Linked DNA regions of Homo sapiens: all the other regions are reported to be linked to region 1. Evidence: microRNA targets listed by miRTarBase, many of them from high-throughput screens and not tested one by one. Region 1 holds a microRNA gene; each other region holds the end of a gene's coding sequence.

The links. Region 1 holds the annotated microRNA hsa-miR-148b-3p (UCAGUGCAUCACAGAACUUUGU, at 2,033-2,054, opposite strand). A microRNA usually pairs through its seed, bases 2 to 8, with sites in the 3' UTR of a target mRNA and lowers its output. Matches are read on the target gene's strand: a 7mer-m8 pairs with bases 2 to 8, a 7mer-A1 pairs with bases 2 to 7 and ends in A, and an 8mer does both.
Region 2: miRTarBase lists AP5B1 as a target of hsa-miR-148b-3p. Seed matches in the 3' UTR shown: 7mer-A1 at 516-522.
Region 3: miRTarBase lists ERICH5 as a target of hsa-miR-148b-3p. The part of its 3' UTR that is shown has no 7-base or 8-base seed match.
Region 4: miRTarBase lists SLCO4C1 as a target of hsa-miR-148b-3p. The part of its 3' UTR that is shown has no 7-base or 8-base seed match.
Region 5: miRTarBase lists TUBAL3 as a target of hsa-miR-148b-3p. The part of its 3' UTR that is shown has no 7-base or 8-base seed match.
Region 6: the mRNA of KDM1B is a reported target of hsa-miR-148b-3p. Seed matches in the 3' UTR shown: 7mer-A1 at 3,711-3,717 and 7mer-A1 at 3,006-3,012.

Annotation. Positions count from the first base shown.
Region 1 is chr12:54,335,223-54,339,331 of GRCh38, reverse strand. MIR148B (microRNA 148b) reads right to left here and starts at 2,116; the gene lies at 2,018-2,116. The region is part of intron 1 of COPZ1 (coat protein complex I subunit zeta 1); the gene reads right to left.
Region 2 is chr11:65,774,480-65,778,479 of GRCh38, forward strand. It overlaps AP5B1 (adaptor related protein complex 5 subunit beta 1), which reads right to left. Exons shown (of 2, transcript NM_138368.5): 2 at 1-4,000. The coding sequence ends at 3,377. Among named protein-coding and RNA genes, the nearest start is that of AP5B1, 4.5 kb to the right of the region's middle. RefSeq lists an enhancer at 2,866-3,770.
Region 3 is chr8:98,092,949-98,097,057 of GRCh38, forward strand. ERICH5 (glutamate rich 5) reads left to right here. Exons shown (of 3, transcript NM_173549.3): 3 at 273-661. The coding sequence ends at 385. Among named protein-coding and RNA genes, the nearest start is that of RIDA, 22 kb to the right of the region's middle.
Region 4 is chr5:102,233,076-102,237,184 of GRCh38, reverse strand. SLCO4C1 (solute carrier organic anion transporter family member 4C1) reads left to right here. Exons shown (of 13, transcript NM_180991.5): 13 at 167-3,199. The coding sequence ends at 327. Among named protein-coding and RNA genes, the nearest start is that of SLCO4C1, 61 kb to the left of the region's middle.
Region 5 is chr10:5,389,891-5,393,999 of GRCh38, forward strand. TUBAL3 (tubulin alpha like 3) reads right to left here. Exons shown (of 4, transcript NM_024803.3): 4 at 3,211-4,109. The coding sequence ends at 3,627. Among named protein-coding and RNA genes, the nearest start is that of TUBAL3, 13 kb to the right of the region's middle.
Region 6 is chr6:18,221,763-18,225,871 of GRCh38, reverse strand. It overlaps KDM1B (lysine demethylase 1B), which reads right to left. Exons shown (of 22, transcript NM_001364614.2): 22 at 2,018-3,963. The coding sequence ends at 3,880. DEK (DEK proto-oncogene) reads left to right here. Exons shown (of 11, transcript NM_003472.4): 11 at 142-2,012. The coding sequence ends at 153. Among named protein-coding and RNA genes, the nearest start is that of DEK, 41 kb to the left of the region's middle.

The sequences.
Region 1 (4,109 bases):
GAGATAGTGATGTGTGCATGAAAGGTATTTGCAGCCTCACATTCCTTGACTTTCTTTTTTTTTTTTTTTTTTTTAAGAGAAAAGGTGTCACTGTATTGTTCAGGCTGGTCTTGAACTCCTAGGCTCAAACAATCCTCCCACCTAGGCCTCCCAAAGTGCAAGTGTGAGCCACTGCGCCCGACCTACATTCCTTGACTTTCTAATCAACATTACTTACCATTGATATCCCTTGTGCTGAGACAAGGCTGTTGCTTTGCTACCTCTTTCCTGGCCTTATTTAAGAAACCCACAGTCCTCACAGGAGCCAAACACAAAAGTATGTGTTTGACAGATATCCAAGAGTGAGGAGGAAAAAATCATTGCCAAGAACCCAGAAACTGCAGCCTCTACAAACATAAATTGCCTCATGAGGCTTCAGGAGGTTTATGGTTCCATGCAAAGAATCAACCCTGTTTGCGGGGGCAGAGGAGGGCAGTTCAGAATGGAAGTAAAAGGAACCCAGTCTTTTGACAACAAGGTGATGAGGAACATAAGCTTTCCCTACTTGAATTCTTGAGGACTGCAATTTTTGTTTTGTTCGCTGGTTTGTCCCATTTGTCCAGAACAATGCCTGACACATACTAAACTCTCAATATTTGGTGAATAATTCAGAGAATAAAGGAAGTTTGAGAATAAAGTTAAAATACCTTGACGCAGTATGCATCTAAGGGACTACTTATAATTAGACCTCCACATATAAGTGGATTTTCTGATGTGGCCACTTTGGGTGATATTACTACCAACTTTATCCCTCCTCTGATAAACACTCCTTAGAGATGTCCATCCTGTATATATAACACTCTGGAATAAACAAGGCATGAGTAACTCCTCTCTCAAACTAAAGAACTTTGTTGCCTAGTGGAGGGAAGTCCTCTAGAGTCTAGTCTTAAAAGGTCACAAGTAGAAGCAGCTCTCCTAACTCCTAATTCCTCACAGAAAGATCTTCCTGTAAAGCAGGCTCAGTTCTATAACAACTTGGGTCCTCAATTCCAAAAGGGAGACAACAATGGGAATGAGTTTTCTTAATGGAAGAAAAGAAGTCCAAAAGGAACAAAATTTAGACGAAATCATTTTTTCCCACAACCTTTTCCTGGAAATCTTTGGCTCTGTTCCTCTATCCACATTCACAGCAACTTTAGAGAGCTGCCCATTAGTTTAAGCTGGGCATTAACCTGGCATAGGAAACTGGTTCTTGCAGCCATAGAGTTTGGCATCCCTAGAACCCAAAGAAAAGCAAAGCCCTAATGGCCCCCAGCCAACTGGGAGAGTCAGACAATGTCCTTTGTGGCCAACAGGGTGTGAGTGCCTACAACAGCCACACCGGCAAAGAGAGAACATATCCCTGGGTTCTGCTCTTGGTTCTTTTCACTGGCTTCCTAGAAGACATTATCAAAGAAACCCCAAAAATAGAAACATTGGATCTTCCTGGGAAGAATAAAAGACAGGCTAAGGAGGACAAGGATAAAGACTAGATTTGACATAGAGCTTACTGGAGCTCTCAAAAGGGAAAGAAGGCATTACAGAAAAGGCTGGTCATTTCAAACTTCCAAAGGAGGAAGCATACTAAATAAAGCTGAGAATTTAGGCAGGCGCTTAAATGCCGCTTCAATTCTCCATTCTGCTACAGCTGGAGCCAGCAGCTTCTTTACTTCTCCTGCCACCTCCTGACTGCAGCTGGTTCCACTTCAGCCTGGGGCTTTTACCTCTCAGGAGTGGGGAGGGCTATGCCATAAAACTAGCCAGTTTAAAGGCCCCAGAAGTCATTACTGATAATGTAATTTCATTTTAAGTTTTTGCAAAGGGCAAGTTTATAAATAACTCCCAGCTACTGAGAAATGGGCTTCCAGGACAATGGACTAGGCTTGACCTTGTAACACATTAAATGCTGACTGTTGAGAAAGACCTTATCAGCTTAGGGCCACACTGAAAGAATTTAAAAGGTCTATTCTTCCCTCCCACTCCCAAAATGGGTAGCTGCTAGAAAGCTTTCGAGACAAAGTTCTGTGATGCACTGACTTTCAGAGAGCCACAGCCTGAGTGTATAACAGAACTTCACCTCAAATGCTAATCGTGCTTGGAAATGATGTATAGGCAGATTGTTTTGTGGGAGATTGGGTGACTTAGACAGATTTTCATGTATTTATGTTTTTATTATCAAGAAAACAAGAATGCTGTCCTCAAGACAGGTGAAACACCACAGAACAAGCAACTAGGCTGCTGCAAATGAATCTTTGATCTCAGGGGCTTCTTTTTTTTTTTTTTTTTTTTTTTTTGCGACAGTCTCTCTCTGTCACCCAGGCTGGAGTGCAGTGGAGCAAACTCCGCTCACTACAACCTCCACCTCCCGGATTCAAGTGATTCTTGTGCCTCAGCCTCCCGGGTAGCTGGGACTACAGGCACACACCCCCATGCCCAGCTAATTTTTGTATTTTTAGTAGAGACGGGGTTTCACCAAATTGGCCAGGCTGGTCTCGAACTCCTGACCTCATGATCTGCCTGCCTCGGCCTCCCAAAGTGCTGGGATTACAGGCGTGAGCCACCGTGCCCGGCCTCAATCAGGGGCTTCTAAAGCCTGGTGAAAAGCATCAACATCTCCAAGAACTCTCTCCCCTAGCGCATAGAGGACTAGAGGGAAAGAGTCATTCCTAGTGCTGCCCCCTGTGGGCCTTCTCGGTGACCTGCAGCTTCCACAGGATTACAGTCATAAGCAAAAATATTTTTCAAAGGCAGCTCTGGATAAGAGCTTTTTTTTTTTTGAGACGGAGTCTCGCTCTGTCGCCCAGGCTGGAGTGCAGTGGCACGATCTCAGCTCACTGCAAGCTCCGCCTCCTGGTTCAAGCTCTCCTGCTTCAGCCTCCCGAGTAGCTGGGACTACACGCACCTGCCACCATGCCCGGCTAATTTTTTGTATTTTTAGTAGGGATGGGGTTTCACTGTAGCCAGGATGGTCTCAATCTCCTGACCTCGTGATCCGCCCGCCTCGGCCTCCCAAAGTGCTGGGATTACAGGCGTGAGCCACCGCACCCGGCAAAAGCTCTCTATTTGTGTGTCTTGTAGGACAAACTAGTAGAGATGGGCCCTGAAAAATAAGTGAATTAAGTCTGTTCACAATGTATATAGTAAGAGAACTCTTTGGGGTAAGATCTTAGTAAGCCACCAGAAGACTGGGAGAATATGTTTGGGGAAGGTAGAGAGGATACTTGGAAACTATAATGAATTATTTGATTCATTTAGGGGAAAAAACCAAGAAGCCTCTATGGAGGGAATTACAGGATGCCATCTACAGAGCTGAAAGAGCACAAATAAGAATATGGAGGCCAGGCGCAGTGGCTCATGCCTGTAATCCTAGCACTTTTGGAAGCTGAGGCAGGAGATCACTAGAGCCAGGAGTTCAAGACCAACCTGGGCAACACAGTGAGACCCTGTCTCTGCAAGAACTTAAAAAAAACAAAAATTAGCCAGGCATGGTGGCATGCACCTGTAGTCTCAGCTACTCAGGAAGCTGAGGCAGGAGGATCGCTTGAGCTTGGGAGTTCAAGGCTGTAGTGAGCTACAATTGCGCTACTGCACTCCAGCCTACACAAAAGAGTGAGACCGCCTCAAAAAAAAAAAGAAGCTGACTGAGATCACTAAAAAGTTCTTCATTGTCTACTTAAAAATAAATCCTTCCAGCCTGGCCAACATGGTGAAACCCTGTCTCTACCAAAATTACAAAACTTAGCCAGGCATGGTAGCAGACGCCTGTAATCCCAGCTACTCAGGAGGCTGAGGCAGGAGAATCGCTTATACCTGGGAGGCAGAGGTTGCGGTGAGCTGAGATCGCACCACTGCACTCCAGCCTGGGCGACAGAGCAAGACTTCAGATCAAAAAAAAAAAAAACATTCCCTAAGGCCATACCAAAAGGGCCTGATGTGGCATTACCCTGATGTGGCAATGGGTCTTGGTGAATTAAAAACTGTAACAAGATTCTCTTGTCTCAATCCTGTTTATAAAGTAAAACTAAGAAGGTAAAAACTAGAAGGAGAAATTCCTAGATACCACTCCCAGCTCCAAATGGCTAAGTAGGTAT
Region 2 (4,000 bases), not on the chromosome of region 1:
CAGTTCACTGCAACCTCCACCTCCCGGGTTCAAGCGATTCTCCTGCCTCAGCCTCCTGAGTAGCTGGGATTATGAGCACGCCACCACACCCGGCTAATTTTTGGATTTTTAGTAGAGACGGGTTTCACCATGTTGGCCAGGCTGGTCTCAAATTCTTCACCTCAGGTAATCAACCCACCTCGGCCTCCCAAAATGCTGGGATTACAGGTGTGAGCCACCGCCCCCGGCCCTTGACTCCCTTCACATTTCATTAGCCAGAGCTGGGCTTGTGGCCAGACCTGCCTTGAAGGAGGCAAGGAAGGGTATGTGAACATGAGCAACGTCCACACAGGTGGACAAGGTGACCCGTGTGACTTTGGTTCCCTCTCTTTAGGAAGAATTTTTGGTTGTACTTGGGACAGTTACAGGCATGCTGCTATTGCCATGATCTTCGGGAAGCTGAAGTGATGAGCAGCAGTGTGTGATTCTGAGGACACAGAGGGCTGGGGTCTAGGAGCTATCTCAGGTGGGCTCAGTCAGTGCCATCCTCCCTTTTGGTGCCTCCCTAGAAGTGCTGAGAAGATGCAAAACCAAAAGCTTTTACTCCAACATTGCTTAGCCAAGCTAAGCACATGCATTCCCTATGATTCAGCAATTCTGCTCCTAGCATGTATCCCAGAGAATTGTCCCATGGGTCCATAGGGGCATATAAGAATGGCCATTGCAGCAAAGTTCTGGTTGGGGTAGGGGGAGCTGAAAGTCATCTGGTGTCCACAACTGGAGGAATGGATGGATAAAATGGGATGGATGCACAAGTGGGCAGACAGATGGGTGAAAGGATGGTCAGTCCTTACATGGACCAGTTTCCTTATTCTTAGGCTAAGGATTAGCATCTCCAGGCAAAAAGAAAACGTTTCTGGATTCCCTTGCCACTGGAGTTCCGTGGAAGAGAGAAATGGAGTCCACTAATGAGGTGTCCTTTGAAGGATATGGATGGAGGACACAGGGCCAAGGAAGTTTGCTCTGCGGGCCCAGCCTTGGAGATGTTCAGTCCTTCTGCAGCAGCACCACGCTTCTGGCTTTGTGGGTGTCAGGAGGCAGGAGTGGCAGTCCCACCCCATGTCCCAGGGCCCAAGCCCAGCTTCCTGGGTGCTTACAGGGGATGGCAGGCAGGACAGTACGTTCTGATCCCAGCTCCAGTGGGAGCTTCCTGGAGGCGACTTCTCCAGCCTTCCCATGTACTTTAAGTACCCTGATTCCCTTAAATCCCCTTCTGCCAAAAACAGCTGGAGAAGTTTCTGTTTCCTGAAACTGACCCCTTCCTGATTTGGAAATGACTTGCCGAGGTGACAAAGCAAGTTATTGCCACATCTCAAGTTTGAGACAGGCCTCCTGACTCCACCTATTAACAGTACCACTGTCCCAGGCCCTTTCTTTTTTTTCTTTTTTTGAGACAGAGCCTTGCTCTGTCGCCCAGGCTGGAGTGCAGTGGCGTGATCTCGGCTCACTGCAACTTCTGCCTCCCAGGTTCAAGTAATTCTCCTGCCTCAGCCTCCCAAGTAGCTGGGATTACAGGCGCCCGCCACCACGCCCGGCTAATTTTTGTATTTTTATTAGACACAGGGTTTCGCCATGCTGGCCAGGCTGATCTCAAACACCTGGCCTCAGGTGATCCACCCGCCGCAGCCTCTCAAAGTGCTGGGATTACAGGCATGAGCCACCGCACCCAGCCCAGGCCCGTCTTTCCTCTCCTAGTCTGCCCCAATCGGAAGGATCAGGAGGCGTAAAGCTGGCCCATGGGGAACCTGTGGCTGGGAGCCCATGAGGCAGGGGCAGCAGAAGAGGGCAGAGACGGTTGGGACCTCTGTGGCCCTGGCTGAGGTCTGCTCTGATGGCATGGTAATGGAAACCTGCTACCAGATGACAAAACACTATTACCAAACAGCTGGGTGACCTTAGGAAAATCACTCAACCGCTCCTGCCTACGGATTTCCTCATCTGCGGGGCCCTGCAGAGCTGTTGCAAGGATGAAATGAGGCAACGTACATGTGCCTGGCAGCACAGCTGACCCCACACAGCTCAATCCTCAGTGTTTGCATGTTTGGGAAAAAAAAACAACAACTAGAGGAACTAGTTCTTCTTACCTGGGAAGATTCCTAAGCACAAATTAGGTTTCTTAGGGGCTGAGATTAGAAAAAACTTGGTCTCAGACCCTAGACCTTATTAGCAGGCCCTTCCTAGAGCTGGCTCTAATCGGCACAGCTTGGGAAGCTCTCCACCTGGCCACTGCTGTCTTTCTGTTTCTGGCTTAGGCCCACTGGCCTGCCTGGCGTGAGCTCCCTGGGGCAGGGAGCTTGCAAACCTTGGGAGTTGAGAAGCGCTGGCTCGGCCAGGTGTGGGGGCTCACACCAGTAATCCCAACACTTTGGTGAGGCTGAGGCAGAAGAGTCATTTAAGCCCAGGAGTTCGAGACCAGCCTAGGAAACAGGGAGATCCTGTCTGCAAAAAATACAGTGGTGACTCACACCTGTAGTCCCAGCTACTCGGAGGCAGGCTGAGATGGGAGGATCACCTGAGCCTGAGAGGCAGAGTCTGCAATGATCCCTAATCACACCACTGCACTCCAGAGCGCCAGAGTGAGATCCTGTCTTTAACCCCTCCCCGAAAAAAAAAGAAAGAAAAGTACTGTCCAACAGGTCAGGTCCACACTCTAGCTTCAGCCTTCTTCCTAAATCACTGAGTGGCCTTGGGCAAGGCCAGACCCTCTCTGGGAAGCAGAAAGGAGATTTTTCCCCTGCCTCCTGGGCAGAGATTCTGGAGAGCACTAGTGTGTCTGGGTGAGAAGGAACTCTGTAGCTCTACAGTGCCGGGTTCTGTCTGGAAGCCTTCTTGGGGCCTATGACCCTGCTATGGTTTGAATGTTTGTCCCCTCCCACGCTCACGTTGAAATGCGATTGCCACTGTAACAGTATAAGATTAGACCCTAAGAGGTGGTCAGGCCACGAGGGCTCTGCCCTCCTGCGTGGACTCAGGCCGTTATCTTGGGAGTGGGTTCGCTCTCTCCCCTCACTCCTGTCACTCTGTCCTCTGTCATGGGAAGATGCAGAAGGGTCCTCACTGGGCTCTGGGCCCTCCACTATGGACTTCCCAGCCTCCAGAGCTCTGAGCCAATACATTTCTGTTTATTATAACTTACCCCGTCTCAGGGATCTTGCTAGAGCAGCAAAAACAGACTCAGACAGACCCTCACCCCCAGGAGCCTGCTCCCAACCGGGGCCCAAAAGAAAACAAGCCAGCGAGGGCACTGCGGAATGCAGGGTTTTGGCGACAGAGCTACAGGAGTGTGCCTTGGCCCCCACAAGGGCCACAGTCCTGCCCCCACCTGGTCTCCCGGGGCTCAGACAGCAGCCGCCAGCCCACGGAGGTAGTCCCCCGCCAGGGGCAGCACGGCCCAGTCATCGGTCCGCAGGGCCACAGGCACTCCATCTGCCAGGGCCGCCTCCAGCCGCAGCAGCAGCTTTGAGTCCGGGGGCAGGTGGATTGCTACACAGTAGCTGGTAGGAGGCTGGGCCACCACCACAAAAGGCTCCAGGTGGCGGGACACCAAGCCCTCCAGGCCCTGTGGCCCAAGTGGACACCACACACGACTCTCAGCACCCTCTGGCAGGCAGGAATCCCAGAGCTCCTCAAAGAAGCCCAGCCCGGCCCCCTCTGGAGGCTGCGGGAAAGGCAGAAAGAGGTCGGCAAAGTTCACGAACAGGGGTGGCAAGTGGGCATGGCACGTGAGACCAGTGGATGTGGTGTAAAGGGCATGGACATCCAGCCGTGCGGGGGCCGGGCATCGGGGCTGCAGAGGCAGGAGCAGAGGGCGGGCAGGGCGGCCAGGACACAGGCAGGGCACATGGACAGCCTCCAGGGGTGCATACAGCTGTCCTTCCACACGGAAGCGCAGCTCCAGAGAGTAGATGGGCTCCAGCGCCTCCGGCTGGAGCTTCAACACTGGGAGTGGGCCCTTGACCCG
Region 3 (4,109 bases), not on the chromosome of region 1:
TATTTTTAGTAGAGACGGGGTTTCATTACTTTGGGCTAGGCTCCTGAACTCCTGACCTCAGGCAATCCGCCTTCCTTGGCCTCCCAATGTGTTGGATTACAGGTGTTAGCCACGGTGCCCAGCTGAGATGATTACTTTTCTTGATACCCCCAGAGAAACTTACTGCTTAGACCTGAAGATCAAGAACTGCCCCCATTGGAGACAAACTGTGGGATAATTTATGTTAATTCTAAATAAATGTCTCTTAGTATCTCCTTTGGTTACTTTTCCAGGTGAGACAGGGGAAAAGGTGGAAACAGACATGGAGAATGAGAAAGTGAGTGAAGGGGCTGAAACCAAAGAAGAAGAAACAGGAGAAGTGGTGGACCTTTCAGCAGCCACATAGATAGAAGAGTGAACCGACACAGTGTGTTATCATAGAGGAGACAAAAATGGTAGTGAAGCTTGTGGTTATGTATCTTATCTTTCTACATTTACATGTTTTCTGTAAGGAGTGTGGTTATAGAGAGACTGTTGGAACCATGAGAAGGATGTTTCTGTGTTCTTGATTATATTGTTCTGCAAAACTGCTAAGCCATGAACAGTTTTCTTAGCTACTTAGAATGGTTATACATTTAAAAGTATAAAAACCAAAGCCAATAAAAATGATGTGATTATTTAAGAGTGTGAGGGTGACTTTCTTCATTGTGGCCATGGGGCCATTCAGTATAGAAAATGAGACCCTAAAAAGAAAGTGTAAACCTTTAGGTACAAGTGGCTAGAGAAAGGAGTTAGCAAATTTTAGGGAACTCACAATAATAAAGTCACACAATTATAATCATGATGGAATGAGAATGAACAACAGCAAAAATAATAGGATGAACTATACCAAATATTTCTGTCTTGTTATAGAATTCAGAGCTGATAAGAACCTTAGGAAGTATGTCATCTACACATTTGCTCTCCTTTAAGCTTGTCAACTACCACAGATCCTTATTTATCATGGAATATTAAATATGTTAACAGAATCCTTTGCAAAGGATTGCAACTCTGGTGCTATCACAAGGTTAGACATTTTTCATGATGAAAGGCTACACATTTTCCATGTGCCATTTCGAATCAGCTGTTGATTTTATACTCACATGAGGTTTTTCAATTGGTGTTATCCTTTTGAATAACATTAAAAGTATTTTTAATTAATTCACTTTTAAATGTATTTTGGAGACAATAAACAGCAAGGATTAAAACCTAGATTGTTGCTTATGTAGAGTCTATTCCTGGGCTCTACTCTTTTTTTCTTTTTTTTTTGGACATGGAGTCTTGCTCCGTCACCTAGGCTGGCGTGCAGTGGTGCGATCTCGGCTCACTGCAACCTCTGCCTCCTGGGATCAAACAATTCTCCTGCCTTAGCCTCCCGAGTAGCTAGGATTACAGGTGCTTGCTACCATGCCCAGATAATTTTTGTATTTTTGGTACAGATGGGAATTCACTATGCTGGCCAGGCAGGTCTTGAACTCCTGACCTTGTGATCCGCCTCCCAAAGTGCTGGGATTACATGTGTGAGCCATTGCACCTGGCCACTCTATTCTTTTTTAGATGACTGCAATTTAATGGTAGGCTTTAGTGATGGAAAAAGGCTAAGAAATCAAGATTTTAGAAGCATTTATGAGATTTCTTTAGTGATGCACCACAGAGTCAGTTTTTGAGAATTCTTCTGAAGTTGGCAAGGGATTTTGGCAAATGATTGTATGTGAATAATAAAAATAATAGCTAACTTGCCTACCAGTGAGTGTCTTGTGTGTTTGAGTATCAGAATAGAATTCTGGAAACATTTTGTTTATTTATCTTGTTTGTAAATAGGTATTTTTCTTTTTTAAAAAAATTCCTACTATTTCCTAAGTAAATATGTATTTTTAAGGTAACTGCTCAGATGAATTAACTAGTCTCTTTATTTTTATTTTTTATTTTTTGAGACAGGGTCTTGCTCTGTTGCCCAGGCTGCAGTGTAGTGGTGTGATCATGGCTGACTGCAAACTTGACTTCCTGGGCTCAAGCAATCCTCCCACCTCACCTCTCCTGAGTAGCTGGGACTACAGGCATGTGCCACCATGCCGGGCTAATTTTTGTATTTTTAGTAGAGACAGGGTTTCACCATGTTGCCCAGGCTGGTCTCGAACTCTTGAGCTCAAGCAATTCACCTGTCTCAGTCTCCCAAAGTGCTGGGACTACAGGCGTGAGCCACCCGGCCTAACTAGTCTCTTACTTTAGCTTCTACATTAAAATAACTACTAAGATGGCCTATAATTAATTATAAGAATATAGGATACAGGGAAAAACATATTCTCTTGATTCTGATTTTAATATTAATTTATGTTCTGACTGTAAAGTGCCGAGGAAGACAATAAAAGGAGTTCCCTGAGGAGATGACATCATCCTTTCTGCAAAGTAAAGGCACTGGATTGTGATTGCATTGAAGGCAAGCACTGTGTTTTATGTATTTTTGAATTCAGGCATTTAGCTCCTTTAATGGAATGTGGTACATACTTGATAAATATTTGTTGAATCAGTAAATGAATAACAAATACCAAGGAGTCCCATTTATACTTAATTCATTAAAAAATAATACATATAAAATATAAATTTGGCTGGGCATGGTGGCTCACGCCTGTAATCCCAGCACTTTGGGAGGCCAAGGCGGTGGATCTCTTGAGTCCAGGAGTTCAAGACCAGCCTGGGCAACACGGTGAGACCCCATCTCTACAAAAAATATAAAAAATTAGCTGGGCATGATGCCATGTGCCTGTAGTCCCAGCTACTCAGGAGGCTGAGACTCAAATCTTTTATTTTCATAAAATTTTGGAAATTTATAAAAATTTCTGGTACTTTCTCTACTTTTGTCTTTATTCTTTAATGTGGTAACTAAAACACTTTTGGAAACTTTTTTTTATTCTTTTAGATAATATTCAGTTTTAACATTAAAAACCTATAAGGAAAATTTAAATATTTCACAATATCTGAACATTCCAAAATTTAAATATTCCATCAAAATAACCTGTTAATTTTAAAAAGTAATAAATATCTATGGTAAAAGTGAAATATAGAAGGGTATAAAATAGGTAGTGAAGTTTCCTTCCCATATCCTTTAGTCCTTCCATGAAAAAATAATATTTCTTGTGTATACTTCCAGAAAAAAAGGTATATGTATATACCAGGCTATATGTATATGCTAAAATATAAGTGTATATTTACATATCTACATTTTGACTTTTTTATAGATGGGGTCTTGCTATGTTGTCTATGCTGGTCTCAAATTCTTGGCCTCAGATGATTCTTCTGCCTGGGTCTCCCAAAGTGCTAGAATTACAGGCATGAGCCACCACGCTCAGTCTACATATCCACATTTTAAAACACAAATGACAATTTACATAGCCCCTGTACTGTGAAGACTGCATGTAAAACCACTGCTTGATCCTTTCCTATGTTAGAAATTTTTCCTTTTGCCCAAGACTGAGTCTTAACAGAGCAAAATGTATTCTGATCATAGGTCCCCAGACCCTGAAAGAAGATTACCGGTTTTGCCCTCAGATTCAAAATGCACAAGATGGACAAAAGGCTTGAGTTGTTCATAGAGAAACTGCCAGCAGGGCTGGATTTTTCTATCCCTGGGGTGCTGTGCAACCACTTTGTAGTCCAGTTGTGTTCTTTTAATTAAGATAACTTCATTATTTCTGTACCTGATGTACCTAACTGGGATGGAAATGAACAAATTTCCCAACTCTCATTCTTGGGAGTGAACATTTGCATTTACCAGCAGTGGGTGCCAGTTTGCAAATCTAGGAAATACCCAGACCAGACTCAAATTCTTGGCCAGAAGTGCCAACCCCCTGAGGCACCCACAGGGTAGAAATGTGTAGTCAATGGCTGGGTGTGGTGGCCCATACCTGTAATCCCAGCCCTTTGGGAGGCCAAGTCAGGAAAATCACTTGAGCCCAGGAGTTCGGGACCAGCCTGGGCAATATAGGGAGACCCTGTCTCTACATTAAATAAATAAATAAATTATTTTATTTATTTATTTTTTTAAAAGAAGAAATGTGCGGTCAACCTATTATATTACCTTACTGCTTTTTCCA
Region 4 (4,109 bases), not on the chromosome of region 1:
AATGTTTTTTCTTTCCCCTTAATGTTTCAAAAATTTTAAACATAGAACTATAATGGTTATGTAATTATTCTCTTTAAAAATGTTCTATTCATGAAGATTTTTCTCAGTGATAATTTTTATCATAATTAAAAACAAAAGCACATGATTAATTTTTTTTTTCACTTAGGTGTTACTTGTAAAGTTATCACCATGTTCTTCAATGGATTTGCAATCTTTTTGTATAAACCACCTCCATCAGCCACAGATGTGTCATTTCATAAAGAGAATGCAGTTGTGACTAATGTTTTAGCAGAACAGGATCTCAACAAAATAGTAAAAGAAGGGTGAAATGGGAAAAGAGAAGACTGTTTTACACCTGGAAAATTTACCTCGATTTTTAAGAACACACATTGCCATGGCAGGATTATCTATCCAATATGGACAATCATATTTACAAAATTGATGTTTTTATAATCAAATGTATTTTTTTACTTATGTAGTTTTTGTTTTATGCAAGAAACAGACCTGTGCCTTCAAAGCCCACGTAAAGCCTCAAAACACAGCACACACACACACGAGCACACACACACACACACACACGAACACACACACACACACACACACGCACACATACACACTTATTTCCTATTCCCATTGTCTAGGTATGAAATCCTCAAGCAATAACAAGAAAAAAGGCCCACAATTAGAAAAATTTACATTTAAAAAAAATGTTGTTTCTATCCCCATTACAACTTGTTTAATTTTAATTTTCATTGTCAATATTTTGAGCTTAGAACATTTATGGTATAAAAATTTAAACTAATCAAAGTTGTGTGATGATTTCCGGGAATTATTATTGAAAGCCTATGAATTTAAAACCAGGTTTACCATGTAATTTGTTTTTAAATTTATGTATACTAGCCTGGCCTTTCTCCAAGCAAATTATTGAACTATTAGAATATGTTAGTTATCATCCTTGTGTCTTAGTATATAGTGAATACAGAAACATCAGCATTGTATACACATATTTTCACTTTAACTCAAGAATTCCAGGAGGTAATTTGTTGATATTACAATTTTTAACACATTTATGATTCTGTGATAATATTATTCAATTGCATATATTTCAGAGGAAAGTACCAGTCAGTAAAGAAAAATGCCAACTAAACATGAAACTATTGATCAATACTTATATACCTTTAATTTTTCCTATTTGAAAAGCCAACCACTTAACACATTACTCATAGCACCTAAGACAGTGCCTTGCATAGTGTAGTCATCTATTATTATTGTTTAATTAGAATATTAAACCCTACCCTTTAACTCAGCAGTCCCCAACCTTTTTTGCATCAGGGACCATTTTTGTGGAAGACAATTTTTCCATGGGGGAAGAAGGTATGGTTTTGAGATGAAACTGCTCCACCTCAGACCATCAGGCATTAGTTAGATTCTCATAAGGAGAGTGCAACCTAGATCCCTTGCATGTGCAGTTCCCAATGGAGTGTGCACTCCTATGAGAATCTAATGCCACTACTGATCTAACAAGAGGTGGAGCTCAGGCAGTAATGCTCACTCACCTGCCTCTCAGCTCACCAACTGTGTGGCCCGATTCCTAACAGGCCACACACAGCCCAGGGCTGGGGACCCCTGCTTTAACTGATGCATTGATTTGATAAAGTATTTTACAAGCCTGATAATGTTATAACCCTGTTTATTCAGGTCAGATTTATGCCAACTTTGCTGAGAATATGGAGGGTATAGATGAGTGAACATCAACAAACATAACTTCTACCATGGTTAAGAATTTTACTTAGGAAAAGTATTGAAGTTCAAATCCAGATAGTATTACATTTGAAATTGTTATAAGGGTTATTAATTTAATAAAATTCATCATCAGGTTTCCCCTATAAGCTTTCTCCTAGGTTAATTTTCCACAAGCATTGTTTTATATACACTGTAATCAGGATAACACAAGCTTAGTGTTAGATCTTGTAGGAAACCAAGATTAGAAACATTAGAAATTTGCAGAATTTAAGAAATTATGTTTTGTGGTAATCTATGGCCAACGATGTTAGAACCTAGCGCAATTGTAAAGTGAAATTCAAGGAGAAGGAATGAGGAGTTAGGGAAGCAGCATACTTGAATATTAGAGAAGGAGAGGAGCTGTGGGTCAGGAATCAGAGAGACCTGCTAAAACCAGACAGATATAAACACCAAAGACGGAAGCCAAATAGGTAGCCAAAAATCCAGATATTTGAGAAGCAGGAAATTTATAGCAACCAAAGAAATAGGGCAAGAGAGGCAGGTGAACACACATGATACCTCAATTGACAATCTTCCTCCCACCAAGCCAGACACGTTGTAAATGCTGCTTCCTATTGGAGCCCAGAAAAAAGGAAAAGGAAAGTTTAGGCTTTCTTTGTCCTTTGTGTGGAAGCAGGGAATTGGATTGAAGACTTTCATAGTTGTAACATAAAGGCAAATCCTGAGGAACTCACTGATGGAGATGTGAAATGGCAGTAAGGAAGAAAACAGAATAACTGAACAAATATATTAGTCTAGGGCCACTTAATTTAGAGGAAGAAAAAAAATCAACCCATCCATAGAAATAGTTTGATAAACAGGTCACTAAATCATTGGCGTTTATAAAGATTCTTAGCTATCAAGGGCTGCATTGTATTTTATATACTCAGTTTTATAAGGTGATACTTTTTAAATAAGCGCTTTAATGAAAATGGTTAGACTGAAAATAATTTTGGTCCTTAAAAGGAGTCAGGAGCTTTTATATATAAGGTACATATTTTAAAAGAATACCTCCTTTATAACAGGGTTTTACAGACACTACCATAATTTATAATCATTATTTTTTACTTTTGGGTTCACCTAGATCATATGAGTTGATGTGATACTTCTAGAACAAAATTATTCATAGTGCGTTTTTTGTAATTTATGATTGTTAAGTAAGCTTGACTTATAAATTGACATTGTAATTGTGTACATAATTGGATATATGTGTTAAAATTTAACATTTAGATTTACTTAATTGTAGAAAATACAAATGTAAAACTTACACATGGAAAGAACTGTATGCAGTTGACTTTACTATGTAAATTGGAGGGAAACAAAGTTTTAGATCCATTTTCTTTCAAAATTTTCTTTATTGTAAAGTATGCAAAATATATATTCATACCATTTATTAAATCAGAATGTTTATACAAAATTGTCGTGTTTGAGCTTATTAAATGACACAGGTTTGAAACTTGCCTTATCTCTGTGAACATAAGCATATTTTATGGATGGGAAAGGGAAATTAGTATGCTTTTGAACTTGGTGAATGTATTAATAATTTAATCCAGTGATTTCTTGTATCTCAACAGATGTTTTTAATTCAATACAAACCACATGTATTATGAAATATATATTAGGGAAATTCTCTTACACAAGTTTCTACATATGACAGATTAATATATAAGATTTATATAAGTAGGATACATTTTACAGATGGTTTATTTGTAAACTATCTGATAAAAAAGTGTGGGATGTGTTTAATTTATCTCAGTTTATTGTAATAGTAAAATATTTTAAGGAAATAATATTAGATGTTAATTTGAAATGTAATGTTCTTTTCCCCCAGGCTCCTTCAGCTTTTTTTTCAGTAAAGTCCAATAAACACTAACTTTTACAGCACATATGAGTAATCAAAAATAGATGAAAGATAATCCACTTTGAAAAACTCAATGGGTAAGTTGGATTATAACATTTTAGTGCTTCAGCTAAAATTAATTTAGCTTATAAAAATTATCAAGAATTGATCATTTTTTTCTTTTCAAATTTAGTGCGTCTGACTTTCCATTTAAAATTTTATTTTGTAGTGCTTTTAGACTTTGTAAAATAGTACACATAAAATTCCTCTATAAGCTTTCTCTAGTGTTAATATTTTAAAAATCCATAGAACAATTACCTAAAACTAGAAACAATTACGAAGAAACTAGCATTGGCATGATACTATTAACTAATCTACAGATTTTATTATAATTTTGCCAATCATAACACTAGTGGTGACAAGGACAGGAGGCTGGGAAATTCTGGGCAGAAGAGAGCGAGTCCTGGTAAAGGCCCCACCCTCAAGC
Region 5 (4,109 bases), not on the chromosome of region 1:
TACTATCTACTATATGCATGGCACTGTGTCAGATGCCAAAACTACAAACATTAAGAATAATGCTCTGCTCTCTTGAAAGAGTGTCATAGAAGAAATAAGAAAAGAATGAAAATAAAAACAATATAGAGAATTTGTAATGCCCAAAGATAAATAGAACTAAGGCCCTGAAAGTTACATAGAATTTATAAAACAATATTTAATTCATTGCTTTAATGCATCCTATGGACTTATAACATTAAGCAGGTTATTTCATGTCCCTGGGCTTCTGTCTTGCCAAGCACAAACATTCTTATCAACTCTTCATAGTTTTTACAACTATCATTGGAATAAATTGTCAAAAGTATAGCTACTTTAAACTCTACTAAAAAATGGACTTTTGCCTGTATGCAAAATATTCAGTAATAGAATTATTCATAAATTACATGGATCTGTATCTGTTCAATTGGATTTTCAATGAAAAAGAAAGATCTAACAACTACCAACAAACATAACTGAAATGTCTTTGGGGTTTAATAGAACAGATCAAATTATTTCCACATAGTATTTTCCAAAGCTTATGTAAGGTAGAAAATATATAGTTGGAAGTAGAGAGGTAGAAAAAAGATAAAACATATTTTTTTAAAAAAGTGCATGCAACATTTGGGACAATGTAAAGGAATTATATGTGTAGTCTAAGTCACATAAGGAAAGGAAAGAAAACTCAAATGATATTTGAAGAACTATTGGCCAAGCATCTTCCAAAACTGATAGGAGACATCAAGCCACAGATTCTAATAGCTCTAAAAAGTTCAAGTAGGATGAACATAATAAAAACACACCCAAGCACATCACTGTTAAATCACCAAAGGAAAAACAAAACAAAACAAAACAAAAAACACTACTTTCCAGGATACAATAAGATCAACAGCTGACTTTTCAATAGAAATAATGAAAGCCAGAAAACTATGGAATGGCGTATTTCAAAATGCTGAAACAAAGTAACTGTCAACCTAGAATTCTATACCCAGAGAAAATATCATTTAAAGATGAAGGTAACCTAGACATGTTTAGAGAAAAATAAAAATAGAGAGGATTGTCTGCTGGCAGATCTACATTAAAAGATTGCTAAAATGAGTTATTTTGTCAAAAGGGAAATAATCCCAGATGGAAGCATAGTAATGCAAGAAGGAATGAAGAGTGCCAGAGAACTAAACTAGGAGGCTAAATCTAAGCCAACATCCATTATTTAAAACAATGATAATAATAGTATAGATTCTTTCCATTGAACAAGGTTTTGAAACTGTGCTCCAAAGAGTTGAAGAAACCAATGACTAACAGAAATTATTGAGTTTTCAGGATGGCAGATAAGAAAAGAAAGAACTTGATAAAATGCTGAAACTACCTCTGCTTATAAGATATTTTTTTAACTAGCTGAAATTGGTTTGAACCAATATGGCCAACCAGAGTCTGTGCAGAATGAGCTTGCTGATGTAGCAGCCGCAACTTCTACCATGTTTCATACTAACGTCTCCTCATTTTGTACATGCGTCCCATGAGGAAGCATGAGGAAATAACCCATGAGGAAGCATGAAGACCTTCCAGACCTTTCCTTTACTTCCACCAATCACCTACTAATCCCAGAACCTAGCCACTAAAGCTTTTCTAATAAAAATACTGTCTTAGACCCAGCACAGGGAGACAGATTTGAGCTGAATTTCTATCTTCTTGTTGGTCAATTCACAATAAAAGCCTTTCTTTTCTCAAAAACGCAATGTGACACTGTTGGCTTCTAGCACATTAGGCAGCAAGCCCTTTTGCTCAGTAACAGTTTTCTTCCACACTTCAATAAAGAGCCAATTCTAGATATTGTTGGTCTATGTTGGATATAGTGAAGACACACTAAAGTTCACCAAATCATTCCTTTTGTTTGGACAAAATAATTTTTTTAACTTACTTTCCTCCAAATGTTTGATCCCATCAAGTCAGAGACATGAGAATGACAGTCATGTTCCTTTCCCTGTTACTATACCAGGAATCCTGGCACATCTCAATTAACAGGCTCCAAACACAACCCTGCTATGAGGTTGTTTTCATGTGAACAGAAGTTGAGCCCTTGGCAGAGAAGCTTGGAAGTGGAGTCCAAAGGGGACACAGCCAGATACTTAGAGACTTGGCGACTGAGCAAAAACTCAGCGATAGTTGTCTGTGCTGGGAAAAAAAAAAAATCCTTACTGGCATTGAAGAGTAGCTAAATATCATTTCCACCAAACAGTGGTCATTGGCTTCCGTGGTGAGAATGGTTTCAACTGAAAGCAGGCAAAATGGTACATTGTTTGAGTACCACTCTTAAAGGCCACATCTCAGGGGAGTGATTTTAGTATGTAAAAGAATCTCCCAAGAAACTGTTAGAAATGGAGGGTTATACTTTCCACTCAATGTTGCTGAGAACCTATAAATACTCAAAAAATAGATCTTACCAAAAAAAAAAAACAATACAGAGCATTCATTTTTGAGTCCAGTTGCACAAGCAAGAAGGTAGTAGCCTTGTAGTTTGAGGAATCTCAAAACAGATACACAACTTCATGCCTCCAGCCAAGGCTTTAGTGCCTCCTATCTTCCGATGTCTACCTGAGCCAAAAGCATGTACCCGGTTGAGGCCAAGAGTATAGCTGAAGGGTGAGGGCTGACAGGTTAAACAGTGCAGGTGGATGAGGCTCCTGAGGATTATCTACCATCAGTCCAAGAGCAACACCTCAGCCCAACTCAGTACCTTTGCAGCATCTAAGTTGCCTTAATTCCAAGTATTAGTGAGACAAAATATTGTGGTTATTTAAAATCTCACTAGTGGTTTTAATGCATTTATAGCTTTGTCCAGAGTAAATTATTTTCTCAAATGGAACTATTCGGTGGCAAAAATTAATTCCATTTAGTGTTTTTGTATATCTCAACTCCTTAGGACACAGGCCCTCCAGCCCCCAGGATTCTAGCTTAGCAAGTCAATAGAGAAGCTCAACGATCTGCATTTTTACTAAACTTCTGAAGTGACTCTGGCACAGAGTTAAGCGGGCGACACTTTGAGAACACCACCTCCAGGAAAGGGAAGTGGAAGAGACGGCTCTCACCTCTGACGTGCAGGACACCCAAATTCAAGTTTTAGAAAGACCCAAATTTGTTTACATAAAAAGCAAACTGAGCCCTTTGGGCACACATTTCAAAGAAGAATAAGAATCATACTGAAAATATTTATGATTTAATCAGTGTAAAAAATGTAGACATGGGGGAAAAAACATTCGTAATCAACATGTGCTGTTTTCTACTTCCGGTACCAGAAAGGAAAAGCATAAACTTCAGGATTTCATTGTCTCTTGGTAAAACAAAAAAATCCCACCTAGAAGTGACTCAGCAGTTCAAAGGACTCTAAGCTTCCAAAGGCTCCCAGGTAGCAGAGCTGACTTGTACCAGTAGACCAGGAAATAATGTGTTCATTGTTGGTACTGACCCACTTAATTTAGTGTGGAACCTAGAGTCTTGCCTGATTTGAGTTCATTTTTCTGCTCATCAGGGGAACTACCCACTAGGCATATAACGGCTTGAAAAGAAAACATGCCATTTTAACTTGACATTCATTTGCACCCATCATACATGCCTCAGAAACTTTGCGCCACTTCCTCATAGTCCCTCTCCAGGGCTGCCAGATCTTCCCTGGCCTCCAAGAACTCTGCTTCTTCCATGCCTTCTCTGAGGTACCAGTGCAGAAATGCTCTCTTGGCGTACATGAGGTCAAACTTGTGGTCCAGGCGGGCCCAGGCCTCCACAATCGCCGTGGTGTTGCTCAGCATGCAGATGGACCGGTGGACTTTGGCCAGGTCCCCACCCGGCATCACCGTGGGCGGCCGATTGTTGATGCCCACCTTGAAACCAGTTGGACACCAATCTACAAACTGAACAGAGTGCCTCGACTTCGTGGCTGCGATTGCTGCATTCACTTCCTTGGGGACCACATCCCCTCTATAGAGTAGGCAGCAGGCCATGTACTTCCCAAGCCGAGGATCACACTTGACCAGCTGGTTGGAGGACTCAAAGCAGGCAGTGGTGATGTCTGACACAGAGAACTGCTCATGGTAGGCTTT
Region 6 (4,109 bases), not on the chromosome of region 1:
GTGAGGGGAAGATCAGCAGGTAGCTGTAATTCTGTATTGATCTCAACTGATTTTTGAAGGACAAAATAGTAAAATAGATGTGGAAAAAATGGGATAAAGGTTTATGATTTATGGCAAAATAATGTTTCTCTTTCATTACAGCTAATTTCTTGAGATAGAGGACAGAGAAGATGACTCGTTCCCATAGATTTGAAGATCTGATTTATACCATTATACCAGCAAAGAGAATGTATTTCCTTTTCTAAATCCTTGTTAAGCAACGTTAGTAGAACTTACTGCTGACCTTTTTATCTTGAGTGTTATGTGAATTTGAGTTTGCTGTTTTAAATTGCATTTCTATGCCATTTTTAGTTTAAAATCTTGCATGGCATTAATTGTTCCTTGCTTTTATAGTTGTATTTTGTACATTTTGGATTTCTTTATATAAGGTCATAGATTCTTGAGCTGTTGTGGTTTTTAGTGCACTTAATATTAGCTTGCTTAAGGCATACTTTTAATCAAGTAGAACAAAAACTATTATCACCAGGATTTATACATACAGAGATTGTAGTATTTAGTATATGAAATATTTTGAATACACATCTCTGTCAGTGTGAAAATTCAGCGGCAGTGTGTCCATCATATTAAAAATATACAAGCTACAGTTGTCCAGATCACTGAATTGGAACTTTTCTCCTGCATGTGTATATATGTCAAATTGTCAGCATGACAAAAGTGACAGATGTTATTTTTGTATTTTTAAAAAACAATTGGTTGTATATAAAGTTTTTTTATTTCTTTTGTGCAGATCACTTTTTAAACTCACATAGGTAGGTATCTTTATAGTTGTAGACTATGGAATGTCAGTGTTCAGCCAAACAGTATGATGGAACAGTGAAAGTCAATTCAGTGATGGCAACACTGAAGGAACAGTTACCCTGCTTTGCCTCGAAAGTGTCATCAATTTGTAATTTTAGTATTAACTCTGTAAAAGTGTCTGTAGGTACGTTTTATATTATATAAGGACAGACCAAAAATCAACCTATCAAAGCTTCAAAAACTTTGGGAAAGGGTGGGATTAAGTACAAGCACATTTGGCTTACAGTAAATGAACTGATTTTTATTAACTGCTTTTGCCCATATAAAATGCTGATATTTACTGGAAACCTAGCCAGCTTCACGATTATGACTAAAGTACCAGATTATAATGCCAGAATATAATGTGCAGGCAATCGTGGATGTCTCTGACAAAGTGTGTCTCAAAAATAATATACTTTTACATTAAAGAAATTTAATGTTTCTCTGGAGTTGGGGCTCTTGGCTTTCAGAGTTTGGTTAATCAGTGTTGATTCTAGATGATCAACATAATGGACCACTCCTGAATGAGACTTAATTTTGTCTTTCAAATTTACTGTCTTAAATCAGTTTATTAAATCTGAATTTTAAAACATGCTGTTTATGACACAATGACACATTTGTTGCACCAATTAAGTGTTGAAAAATATCTTTGCATCATAGAACAGAAATATATAAAAATATATGTTGAATGTTAACAGGTATTTTCACAGGTTTGTTTCTTGATAGTTACTCAGACACTAGGGAAAGGTAAATACAAGTGAACAAAATAAGCAACTAAATGAGACCTAATAATTGGCCTTCGATTTTAAATATTTGTTCTTATAAACCTTGTCAATAAAAATAAATCTAAATCACTGGTGTTTTAAGTCACTTGCATTTGATATCTTATAGGTGTATATAGCATTTCCTTATGGGGAATAATTCTGAAAAGGGATTTTTAAATTGATTCAGCCCTATAACCTATACAATTTGGAATACTCTTTTGTGGTAATGGACCATTTTCTTGGAGTGACTTCACAAAACTGAATAATTAAGGTTAATTTTATGACCATTTGCTATAAAGAAGGTAAGTAGTCATGCATAGAGTATTTGGAAGTGAGGAAATGGAGTTGTTCTGTATGAAAGTTCTTGATGAGTACGCACACTTATTAAATGGATGTATCACCACTACAGTACAGAGTACATGTGAAAGTCTAGTTTTTTATTAGTTTTACACAACCAGCTATTCATGAACTGTAGTTAAAACATTGTAAATCTGTATATTTACTGCTACTCAATTACAAAATCTTCAGATGGCATTGAAAAAACATATCCAAAGTAACTCAAGAAAAAAGTACCATGGCTTCTTAAACAAAAAATCAAATGAAGTATGTCACTTGATAGGAAGTTTAAAACACACATTTACCATACTTTAAAGTAGGTTTTCCCCTACTTGTAGCACAGTTCAAGTGCCTGGAAACTAACATAATAATTTACTGTTAACCATTTCAAACTTAACATTTTGCATTTATCACTTTAAAACACATGCTGTCTAAACATTTTAATACATGATACTTTAAAGCAGAATACTTGCCAGTCAGTACCAATGAGTCTCAACAAATAACCTAAATATCAGAGTTGTCTTGGGTTAACTTTTGAGATATACAGCTGTTGGCTTGTTTTGGGACCACACTTTGATTGGGGGGGGCGGGGGGCGGGCGGTGGGGGAGGTGTCTTAAATGCCTGAGGTTCACTGCACATTCTTGGTGTGTTAGGTATTTACTCGTTATAAACTGACCTACTTTTAAATTTTTAAAATACTCAATATTTTGAAGTCTCTTTAAAGTCATATTTAGTCCCTTCTTTAAAGCAAACCAGTATATTATTGTTCAAAAACAAAAGCATATTTCTAACCTGTATACTGAAGTTTCTTGGCAAAATAGGCATCCTGAAGACCCTGCAACCAGTGTTTTATTTTAGAATGAGATATTATTAAACTGTTTTCTGTCATGAGTGTTTTTAAAAAAAAGATAAAAGTAAATACTTGCCATGTTCTTAGGCCTTTAAAATATAGCTTATAAAATGTATACTATTTACCAGGAGAGCTCACATTTTTCTGCAGTTTTCCAGTGGACCTGCCTATGGAATACTGTAAAGAAAAATCTGCAAAAATATTCCTAGCAATTGAATCAGTGCTTTTAAATAAAAGAAGTGGAGAGGGGCTTGGTTAAATTATTCTGACAAGTTTTTTTGCTAGTGGTTGCCAAAATTAAGGATATTTAAAGTGTCCTATCACCCAAATTTGGCTTTAAGAAAAAGCTATATTCTGTGTCTATAGTGTGAAGCCCACACTATCTGTGCTGCATTCTCAATGATACAATACCTATCTGGAAACTTTCCTGTTTTGCCAATGGGTGCACAAATCTAAAACATTTTATCACAAAAGGTACTTGAATTTAAATTTCTTTTGAACACCCAGTAGGAGGAAATATGTACAATACAAAATACCTAGAAGCTTCATTTTACTGTCAACTGGAGTTTGTGCTGTATCCAAAAAAAAGTTCTATCTAAATTTTAAGTAAAAGCTCAATATTGGACCTATATAAAAATTAAGGCTCATTGGTAAAGATACTGATAAATTGTCACAGAAGAAAAACATGGCTTTATCTGGTTTTTAAATGATTCCTGCTTGATTGACTTGGTTTCTCAATGTATGAAAATTGATCAGCCATATAAAATGTGAAATCTAAAGGGAACTTCCAGCCATGGAACAATCAAATCCATGGCCTCAACTGAAACTTACATTCTGCTTTATTCTGAAATCCAGACTTTCAGCAGTAGTTGAACCTATGGAAAATGCAATTAAATCTAAGTGCTTATAAGGTTTTTTGAGGTCAGTGCTTTTAGAGTGATGAAATAGGTTTGCATTATCATATCGCCTTAGAAACATTTCAGTTTTACTATGTAGAGACGGTTTTTTCCCCCTCTTATAAAACTGAGGTTTAACATGTGATTCAAATTTCCCCATCTGGGGTACAGAAGAAAGCTGGGTCCACCGAATTCTTAAAATGCTGCAATCTTGCTTGCTTCTCGAACGCCACTCAAATATGCCCCTGTAACAGTTTGTGGGAAATGCCTGTTTGTTGCCTGTAAAACATAATTACATAATTTGAGATCATGCATAGAGTTGAGTTGATATCAAAAGGTAAAACAAGGTTAGACTTTATCTGGTCTAACATAAAGATTTGTGCCACTCCTGTGTGCTCATATTCACACTCACCCATCGTAACACT